Regions from separate parts of the Homo sapiens genome. Here region 1 is linked to region 2. Evidence: fine-mapped expression QTL. A gene starts in region 2. The other region holds a variant in brackets. All regions are shown on one strand. Distances are from middle to middle.

Region 1 (5,306 bases), 28 kb before region 2:
GCTGGTCTGGGAAAACACCATTCAGAACTACTTAACTCTCAAGTAGCCTGACATTTCTCTTCCTGCTACCTTAGCTATAAGCTGATAATCTGAGCAGCTCTGCGGGGATACCAGGCTCCTGCTCAGCTGTGGGTGGGCAGGTGGCTGTGCTGGGTCGCCCCTGCCGCCTACAGGCAGAAAGCGGATGGTGCAAGGTTTCCTTCCAAACGGAAATCGCCCTTCACAGAGCTGAGCCTGGGAATTACCACAAAGAAACCTCACAAAGAAAAGGTGCGCAAGGCAAATGTTCAGAAAACAGACCCCTAAACCCTGAGATGGCACAAGTGAATGTGTTGGGTGGTGAACTGGCCAAATGCTTGTGCTCTGTCACCACAAACGACCCCAGTGGTCTGACATGACCTCAACGGCTTCACAGACCAGGGGTGTGCTTTCCTTCCTCGTGACAATCTCCTAATTTTGCTTTTCAGAGTGGGGGAGGGCGGGGAGAGGGGAGGTGGATGGCAGTTGTCCCTGTTGTCTAGTCTGGAGTACAGTGGTGTGATTTTAACTTACTACAGCCTTGAACTCCTGGGCACAAGCAGTCCTCCCACCACCTCAGCCCTCCAGGTGTATGCCACCACTGTAGGTTAGCATTTTTTGTAGACACGGTTGCGCTGTTTCTCAGGCTGGATCCTAGCTTTTAATGAAATCGTATGACATGTGAACTGTGCAGTTTTGCGTGTGCCACGAGGCAACTTTCTCAGCCGTGCCTTGGGCAAGTCACAGCCTTTTTGGCCTGGATGCCTTAAGGCAGCCCATCTGAAACCACTTCCCATTCCCATTTCTAGAAACCTTCAAGGGTTCCCTATGAATTGTGCACCCACATGGGTTTTCCTGGAGGATCACTAGTTCTCAGAACCATACAAGCACACAGCAAAAGCCTCTCCACACATCACCCTGAAGTGACCCAAATTCCCATTTCTCAATGTGGGACCTATGCTCTCCTGCACTCCAGCAAGATAGCTGTGGATTCCCACCTGATGCTGTTCCTCCTGCTGCCAAGTGCCTGCCTGCCTTTCCAGGTCTCAGCACACCACACAGGTCGCAGTCAGCATCTAAACCCATCCCCCCACCCCAGACCACTATGAATGCACCCTCACATACAGGTAAAGGTAGCAACTCACTAGGTGACTGACAGAAGGGGAAAGGTGACTACATCCCTGACCCAGAGTGCCTCAAATTTCCTAAGTGACTGTCAGGTGCAATTTAATGAAAAGCCTTGGAACAAATACAGCAGGTAAAACATCTACAATCATACCATCCATGAAGGCTGTATTAGAGATTGCTGGCATAAAACTAATTTGAGGGGCCTCTGAAGTGCTGACTCCAGCTCACAGATCAGTCAGCTGAGAGAGGCAGCCTAGATCACTTGGTGAGCAGCAGACCCAGCACTCAAGATTCATGCCTCTGCTGTCCATTTGACAAGGTTTAGTCTCAAGAAAATGCACCAAGGCCCCGAGGCCAACAGCCAGAGCTCCACCAATCAGGGCTGATCACACTGGTGCTCAAGCACTGCGGCCCAGGAACCTGACTGCAGGAGTGCTGGCTCTACACTAACAGAATGCTGGGCGTGTGTGGGTGGCTGCTGTGGACATTATGGGGGAGATGGGTAGGAAGGACAGATTTGGTTAGGAGCCCAGACTGAAGTTACAACTGCCAAGTTTAAATTCACTCATTTTGTGCACCGTTTCCCAAGTATGTACTGTGAAGGTAGAAGGCACTGTGGCCGCCTGTAAATAGCTGGGGAGGCAAGACACGAAGACCAGATAAATGTTAAGAAACATGCTCCCTGTATGTATTGAAATCAGTTCTGCAACCCTCATACCAGTTGGCTGTAACAGATGCTAAATGTGGTGGGTAAAATGTTTTTAGTCTCATGGTCTTACCATGAATTACTTATTAGAAAGGTAAAGGAGATTACCACCCTAAGTGCTCAGTCATCAACAAAGGAATAGACACACAACTCCTGAAGACATGTCATTGGCACCAGGGAGTGGTTTCGTGGAAGACAATTTTTCCATGGACAAGGTGGGGTGTGGAAAGGGATGGCTTCCAGATGAAACCATTCCACATCAGATCATCAGGCATTTGATTCTCCTAAGGAGCGCACAACCTAGACCTGTTGCATGCCCAGTTCACAATACTGGGTTTGCACTCCTATGAGAATCTAATGCTGCTGCTAATCTGACAGGAGGCGAACCTCAGGCGGCAATGCTGGCTCACCTCTTCCTAACAAGCCATGGACCTGAGACTGGGGACCACTGCCCTATGGTAAAGGCCCTGGCCAAAATGCAAACCTCCATCAGGTCAGGAGCAAACAGACAAACCCACATTTAGAGACCATCTAAAAAAGGCCTGGAGTACTTAAGAATGTCAAGACTAGGACAAATTTCCCCTGACCGCCCCCAGGACTCTGGGCAGAACCTGAAAACCCTGTAACCACAGCCAAACCCTAGCACCACCTGCACTCCTGGGACACACTCTGGTTGTAGTTTCCACGAAAACAGGCC[G/A]TACATTAGTAGCACGATTATTTTATTATATGCTTTATAAAAAAACAAACACCCAAAGACATACAACACACCGCCCTCACCCCCCAGCGGCCATTAGGGAGGGGGCTTATACTTTTCCTAATGTAGATCTGGCCATCTTATAAAGCAGACCACATTATTTGTTTCCATATATACCTGTAGATATTTCTCTCCCCTCAAATATTTATATCTCGACTAAAAAAAGGAGGTGCAAAGAGTATATAAAGATAAATGAGATTTTCTTGCTGTTGTTATAGTACAAACACCAGATGACTACCAGTGGAGTAACAGGGCAAAACAAAAACACAAACCCCACCTTCAGTGAGGAATGGAAGGTCTGTTACCGACCTCAAGTAGCTGAATCACCTGCTGTAACTGGCACCTCCCTGACAATCATGGGTTTGTAGGGACATGGGCCAGGTGATGGCTTCTACTTGTTTCCAGAAGGCTAATGTGTCCTACACCCTTTCTTAGTAACTAAAGACGAACTACGGGAGAACCCAGTATTTGGATTCTGCCCAGAGGTATTAAATGCACAAGGAAAAATTAGTTATGTCCAAGTAGCAAGCAATAATATTTTTAAACCAACATGGTTAAATGTTAAGATTTGTAGAAATCAAAATATTTATTCACATAATTTTAAACTAAAGTTGAAGCTAATATATCTTCCGTGGTAATGATTTAAGTGCAAGTGATGCTTGGCTTTCTTTCACATTCATTTCTTTTCTTCTGAGTGAAGGCATATCAGTTATTCTTGAACAAGTCAATACAGCTCTGCAAAAGGGAGACATTGTTCTGTGGGGAAAAAAGGCAAGGCAGACCAGTGAATTATTAAAACTTGCCATATACCTGGAATGACTCAAGTACACCAACACGGCTTTTCACGGGAGGTTTAAAGTCAGCCAGAGCAAGCTGGCCCTTCTCTTCATCAAATCCCAGGTGAACTGCAACGTACCACGCATCCCCATTTCATGTTTCAGCTCCTCTCCCTCAGTGGGTAAGGCTACCAGCCAAAGAGCCGACGTTCACTCCAGCACCTCTGCCCTCACCTGCTTGCTCCTAAATGTGATCCTGCTTACTGTAACTTCTTAAGACACTATCAGTGCGTTGTTCCATGAAGGCAAGGGCCTTGGAAAGATTGAATAAAAGTTGCTAGAAATTAGGGCTGGGAGCTTTAGCTCACACCTGTAATCCCAGCACTTTGGGAGGCCAAGGCAGGTGGATCACCTGAGGTCAGGGGTTCAAGTCCAGCCTGGCCAAAATGGTGAAACCCCATCTCTATTAAAAAAAAAAAAAAAAAGTTGCTAAAAATTAGTCATGGGTGACATTATAAACAAGACTACAAATAAACAATGAGTGGCTCCCATCAACTAAGTACTACAGACGATTAATACCACAAGGCCACCCCAACTGCCTGATGACAATGGGTTAGTAAACTGGGAAATAACTTGGAAAAAACCATAAAAGATGTTGGCTTCATCTGTAGAAAACACTTACCCTGGCATGTTTTATTTCCAGTTCAGACATTTCAATTAGATTCTTTCTAAATGCTGCCACTCTCTTCCGTTTGAAATTTATCAGTTCTACAGGAAGAAAAAATGTTTATGAAACCAAGAAAAACTAAACAATTTTCATGTTCACTTTAACTACCAAATGGCATTCTTACAAATGGTCTCCAATGCTTTCAGGCACCAGCATTATTTCCTCACATTTGTATTATCTCTGTGACTGGGACACATCAGACATCTATTAACTGTGGTGATACAGCTATCACTGTCTTTAAGTGGAAAACATCACTGAATCACCAAGCATCGTGAGTGGGAGAGCAGCAGCTTATGACTTGGAGAACACGTTGATGAGCAGCCTCACTCTCACCCTCTAGGTACCAGTGACTGGGAACAGGGCTGGAGTATGGGTGGTGGTGAGCCACATACTTCACCAATGGCTTGTGAAAATGCTTCTCAAAAGAAGACATACCAGGTTCATGCAAACAACGTTCAGCAGCACTAGCCATTAGGGAAATGCAAATTAAAACCACAATGAGATTACCTCACACCTGCTAGAATGCATTTTCTCAAATAGATGAAAGATCAGTGTTAGCAACAATGCAGAGAAAAGTGAACTCTTCTACACCGTTGCTGGGAATGTAAATTAGTACAGCCACCATGGAAAATGGTATAGAGGTTCCTCAAAAAACTAAAAATAGAATTACCATATGATCCAGCAAACCCACTTCTGGGAATATAAAAGGAACTGAAATCAGTATCTCAATGGGATATCCGTACTTCCATGTTCACTGCAGCATTATTTACAATAGCCAAAATACAAAATCAATTGAGAATTATCCATCAGTGGATGAAGACAATGTAGTATAGATACATTATACTATCCGGCCTTTTAAAATAACAAAATTCTCTCATATGGGACAATGTGGATGGATCTTAGAGGACATTATGCCAAATAAAATAAACCAGGCACAGAAAGACAAACATTACATGATCTCACTTACAGGTAAAATCTTAAGTTGAACTCCTAGAAGTAGAGAACAGAATGATGGTTATCAGAGGATGAGGGTGGGGTGCTGGGGAAGGTGGGAAAGAGAATGGGTAGAAGGCTGCAGCTAAACTCAAGGAATAAATTTTGAGATCTACTGCACAACAGGGTGACTACAGTCAATAATATATATTGAAACAGCAAATTTCAAATGTATTACCACTGAAAAAAATGAAAGATGTTAAT
Region 2 (5,329 bases):
GGTTATCAGCATCAGCAGAGATCAGAAAACAAAAATAAAGCCACGCGTCAGGGTAATTATTTATTTTTATTGTCTCTTTATTCCTGTAATGTAAAAAGGAAAACAATGTCATGTAACTCTCTTCGCTACAGATACGGACAGTTTCTGTAGCCTCTAAAACAGGCAGGAAATGGCCTTCATAACCATTCTCCAATTTTGCTGGAGGATCAGGGTGGTGGAAGTCATTTTAAAAACCAGCTGCAATATACTGTACTACCAGAGAGTGGGGTGAAGCAATTGAGTCCTTTTACCTAGCTGACTCCGAATCAAGACAGCTAAAAGAATGTACCAGAAAGAAAGAAAAAATAAAATGCTACCAAAATCCCAATCCATTATCTACCCTTTATGGAGAAAAGTACCTTTATAATGTTTTACAAAGAATCGTGGTCTCAAGTTTCCACTTTGTTTTAGTAATAAAGAACTTTCAAAAAAAAAACCACTCTAAACAACACCCTCCTGTATAGAAAGCTCTATTTTAATAATTAATGCAATGATACCCTTGTTGGAACAATCCAGCCGCTTTGAAACTCTGGTATTTACTTACTAGATGAACAAGTTTCTCTATGGAGGTGCCTTTAACTTCTCAAGAAATGTGTAAGTTAAGACGGCTCCAAATTACATTTTAAGAGAGCCTTGTATTTTTAGAGGTTCTTTTTCATCGGTCAGAAAAACTTACGTTGACGATTCTGCAAGAAAGGTTGCTCGCAAACCATGCATCGCAAAGCTACCGAGGCAAATTTAAAGAACCAATGAAAAAGAGTGGAGGCTCGTCTGAATCTTTAATTGGCTATGGGAATTTCAATTTATTGCATAAATAATCTTTTAGACCTCAAGATACACGTGACCTAGGGACAGTTTACATCAATGGGCAAGACTTAAAAATAGACACCAAGTTCAGCAAGTATTTGAGCACCTACTAAAAATTACACAACTCCCACAACAACGCATTTTGCGTTTCTAAAGTTGTAAGCAGCATGTTCGGACGCTTGATGCAATTTCCCAAGTTGTTTGGGCCCCCCCCCCAAAAAAGTCTTCTCAGTAAAAGGTGGGGGGAAGGAGGGTATTTTGGGGGCAACAAACCAAACTGGTCTGTCGCATGTTAAGTCAATTTCACGTTCACCTACTGGTCACCACGAAGCCGAGGAAAGTTTTAAAAAGAACATTCCGGGGTCTCCAGAGATCATCTCTCCAAGTCCGCTCGGCACCGGCGCCTGAGCTGGGGCTAAGGTCCCGCGTCTCTGGTTCTGTCCTAATAGAATCCGGGACATCCACAGGGATTCCCCGGGGCAGCCTTCAGTGAAGACCAGGGAGAGGGGCCGCCCGGGTCTCACGGGTGCTTCCCGCGCTGGGGATGGCGGCGAGCAGCCACGGCCTATGGACGCGCAAGGGAAAGAATGCAGCGACCCCGGAGCTCGCAGGGCCGCCCGCCCAGGAGTCTGAGGCTGGGAGGACCTCACCTTGCTGCGGTCCTCCTCCTGCTGCTGCAGCAACTCGGGAACCGCGGCCATGGCGACGCGGGACTCGAGCAGGGGCCGCCTGGCTGTGCGAGGAAAGAAGAAGCTGGGCCGCCGCCGCCGCCGCCTGGGCGCCTCTCGGGGGCGGCCACGGCCCCGCCTCCGCCGGCCTCCCTGCCCGACGGCGGCAGGAGGCCTCCGGACTCCGCCACCATCCCAGCTGCCCCGGGAGCAGGCGAGCAGGGCGCCACGTGCTCCCCCAGAGCAGCCTCCCAGTCCCCGCTGCCGTCCATCTTGGAGCCGGGCAAAGACGCCACGTGGGGCCTACCCTTGCTCCGCTCCACGAGGAGGCCGCCAACCGCAGGGCCGCGACACGGACGGGAAGCAACGGACACTCTCCCAGCAAGACGCGTCTAGAGAAAGACCGCGTTTCGGTGCGGGGGGAATTTATTACTCAGCCCGAGTCCAAGATGGCAGCGAGCGCTGACGTCACCAGATCTCGTGAGAGCAGAAGGGCGCGATTTGGAGGCTCCCGCGCTTCGGAGACGCCGGCCCTTCCGCTCGGAGAGGTACTCCCTGCCTCTAACTGGTGGCGCGTTGGCGGAGGCCGACGAAAGCCTCGGGTGGGGCGTGAGCGCCGCGGGGCATTCTGGACCTGCTTTGCCTTAGGCTGTGCCTAATTCGAAACCAAAGCGCGGGACGGATGAAAGTACGGGTCGCGAGAGGTTGTTCGCGCCTTGAGAGTTAAGCGAAGTGTGGTGGCTTCCAAGGTACCGACACTTGCCGTAGGCTGGGCTTTTATTTAAGTCGTCTTTTCTCTAATCCAGACTCCTGCCACAGGGGCCACCGCCGTCCTGGCCCCGCCAGGGGTCCGCACCCACGGCGGAGCGGGAGGCGACTTTTTGCGGTCACAGTAATGGGACCTCAGCGCCGCCACCAGCTCTGACCGGCGAGCGACGGGACCCTCCAACCCGATTTCCACGTCTGTGCAACGGGTTCATTCTAGACCCACGGTAGAGGGTGTGAGGACCAAATGAGAAGTATCCACACAGAATACTTAGCAGAGAGCCTGGTGTCTAGGAATTAGTCGTCGTCTGTCACCTAGGACTGTGTGGCCGCCATGGGACGGGCTCCATCTTTGTGTTTTTCCGTGTCTCGCACACGCCTCCCTTCCTGGGCGTCACATTCCTGCAGATTAGAAACTGGGACGTCTTGCCTCAAGCTGTCTACTAATTCGCATTTAGTATGTGTCGGTCCTTCGGGTATTGAGTCTTGATTTATTTATAAATTTTTTTTGGAGGCAGGGTCTCGCTCTGTCGACTTTCTTAAGAAAGGGCTCTGTCCAAACATGTCGAAAAAGTTCACAATTTTGATGTGCAATATCATTCTGATGCAGCTTTCGCTTTGATGGTTGTTTTCTCTCCAATAGGAATACAAACATAAAGGCCTTCGACCGTTGCAAATAGACTAAAGTGAAAACAAATCTGAATGAAGATGAAGTTATTTCAGACCATTTGCAGGCAGCTCAGGAGTTCAAAGTTTTCTGTGGAATCAGCTGCCCTTGTGGCTTTCTCTACTTCCTCTTACTCATGTGGCCGGAAGAAAAAAGTGAACCCATATGAAGAAGTGGACCAAGAAAAATACTCTAATTTAGTTCAGTCTGTCTTGTCATCCAGAGGCGTCGCCCAGACCCCGGGATCGGTGGAGGAAGATGCTTTGCTCTGTGGACCCGTGAGCAAGCATAAGCTGCCAAACCAAGGTGAGGACAGACGAGTGCCACAAAACTGGTTTCCTATCTTCAATCCAGAGAGAAGTGATAAACCAAATGCAAGTGATCCTTCAGTTCCTTTGAAAATCCCCTTGCAAAGGAATGTGATACCAAGTGTGACCCGAGTCCTTCAGCAGACCATGACAAAACAACAGGTTTTCTTGTTGGAGAGGTGGAAACAGCGGATGATTCTGGAACTGGGAGAAGATGGCTTTAAAGAATACACTTCAAGTAATTATCTCAATTCTGATTCTATATGTTTGCTATGTTTTCTATAATAGAGAGCAACGGTGTCAAAAGAATGAGGTTTGGTTTTGTTTTTTTAACTTACTAGCAAGGAACTCCCTTCAGATAGTAATTAACATTAAATAGCACTTTATGTGTATTAACTCACTTGATCCTCATGGTAGTCCTGTGGAGTATAGATACTGTTATCCACATTTTACAGATGAAACTAAAATAGATCAAATATTTGACTAAATAATACATAAAATTCACTTGTTTTATAAGCTACCAACAATATTAGAATTGCTTGTTTTCCTTGATTATTGAAAAAAGTCACCTGGTAACAGAATTCTAGTTGTTTGCTAGATAATTCTGTTTAGAATCCAGTAAATACCCACTGTCCTACTTATTAGCGTAAACTGACTCGTAAATTTAAAGACCTTGAAGCAGACCAGAACACATGACCTATATTTAGACCTTGGTAAACATAATCAGAGGTTCTTCATAAGGATCTGAGGATAAATACACTTTAACCTTCAACTTCTAATTTACTAACTTGGACAAGTGAGGAGAATAGCTTCCTTAAATTTAATATTCCATTCAAAAACAAAGACCATTGGCACTGGTGAATTAGCTAGTCCCATAAATTATATAGGGGTCTTTTGTTAAAGGAAAGTTTCACATCAATCATTCCTTTACCCAAGCTTCCCAAAGTGCAGTACATGTACTCTTAGTAGTACACAAACTCTTTCATTTTTGTTTTAAGAATAGTGTACTGACCCTTGCCATAGCCTGGGCTTCTATTTAAGTCGTCTTTTCCCTAATCCAGACTCCTAAAACTATGCGTGTAACACATTAAACATGTCACATGTTCTAAAGAAAAATACTAAGTATATATAGGTGGTATTGGATATGTACCAAATGGTCAAGGCCTTTGCTCCTTATAATATTCCTCAGCTGTGTGGGGCAAGGATTATATATGCAAGAGCTAACTGCCTTCCTAAGATAGTTAATTAGTAGCAACCACCAAACTATTGTCTGCTTTCCAAGCAAGCAACATAAAAATCTTCTAATGGCATCTTACAGTTTTGTATTTGTACCACTAAAATTTAGAATTGATAGTTTTCTCATGAGAAGTTATTTTCCTTAAACCAGGAATGTACAGCTGAAATTACTAATAAGAAATGTATTATTAAAAGGCAGAAACCTGCTGGAACACATGGGACCCCAGGGCCTGTAGCTCTTGGCACAAAGTAAGGAAGTGCACCAGAGAGGAATTTCTGTTTGGAATGTGAATGAGCCCCAATAGCCCAGGCAGAGAGAAGACTGGTTGTTTTTTTTTTCATAGAGTCAGCTTTGTTGATCTAGATTAGCACTCAGCTGTGTTTCTCAGTTAACTCAGTAGCAACCTTAAGAAATGAGCAGAATCGCTTACCCCAGCACCCCGCCCAGACTTGACCGCCGGGACCCAAGTGATTCTCCCATCTCAGCCTGCTGAGTAGCTGGGACCACAGGCGTGCACCACCATGCCTGGCTAATTTTTTTATTTTTTGTAGCGACAAGGGTCTCCCTATGTTGCCCAGGCTAGTCTCCAACTCCTGTCTTCAAGTGGTGCTCCCACCTCGGCCTCCCAGAATACTGAGACTACAGGTGTGACCCACTGTGCCCAGGCAGAATCACTCTTTTTAGAAAATAAGTATTAGTAAGCAGTGGGTTCTGAAATAAATAAAGGGACAATTAGTGTCATGGTGAATAAAAGAAAAAGGGCTCACTAAATTGATTAACGGGTCTGGAGGATACTGGATCCCAAACCCAAGAAGGTGGCACCCAAGAAGAATTACAT

Direction of the effects. Alleles are on the strand shown, and positions count from the first base shown. SD is a standard deviation of normalised expression in the study named.
For the expression in B cells of the gene that starts at base 1,916 in region 2, allele A in region 1 goes with a higher level than allele G (large effect, 0.80 SD a copy in Fairfax 2012).

What was found. PIP is the estimated chance that this variant, and not a neighbour inherited with it, causes the effect.
Region 1: its variant is the best candidate, but not a certain one, in a credible set for the expression of SNX5 in B cells (Fairfax 2012, PIP 0.86).

The regions. Positions count from the first base shown.
Region 1 is chr20:17,939,046-17,944,351 of GRCh38, forward strand. SNX5 (sorting nexin 5) reads right to left here. Exons shown (of 13, transcript NM_014426.4): 12 at 4,065-4,150; 13 at 2,555-3,362. The coding sequence ends at 3,312. Among named protein-coding and RNA genes, the nearest start is that of SNORD17, 21 kb to the right of the region's middle. RefSeq lists enhancers at 1-260, 1-22, 1,263-1,352, 1,383-1,472, 1,448-2,039. The variant G/A (reference allele first, on the strand shown) is at 2,550.
Region 2 is chr20:17,966,879-17,972,207 of GRCh38, forward strand. SNX5 (sorting nexin 5) reads right to left here and starts at 1,916. Exons shown (of 13, transcript NM_014426.4): 1 at 1,497-1,916. The coding sequence starts at 1,547. It overlaps MGME1 (mitochondrial genome maintenance exonuclease 1), which reads left to right and starts at 2,140. Exons shown (of 5, transcript NM_052865.4): 1 at 2,140-2,263; 2 at 2,923-3,492. The coding sequence starts at 2,982. RefSeq lists enhancers at 629-1,383, 1,245-1,294, 1,345-1,514, 1,384-2,138, 1,755-2,064 and 3 more and a silencer at 1,545-1,754.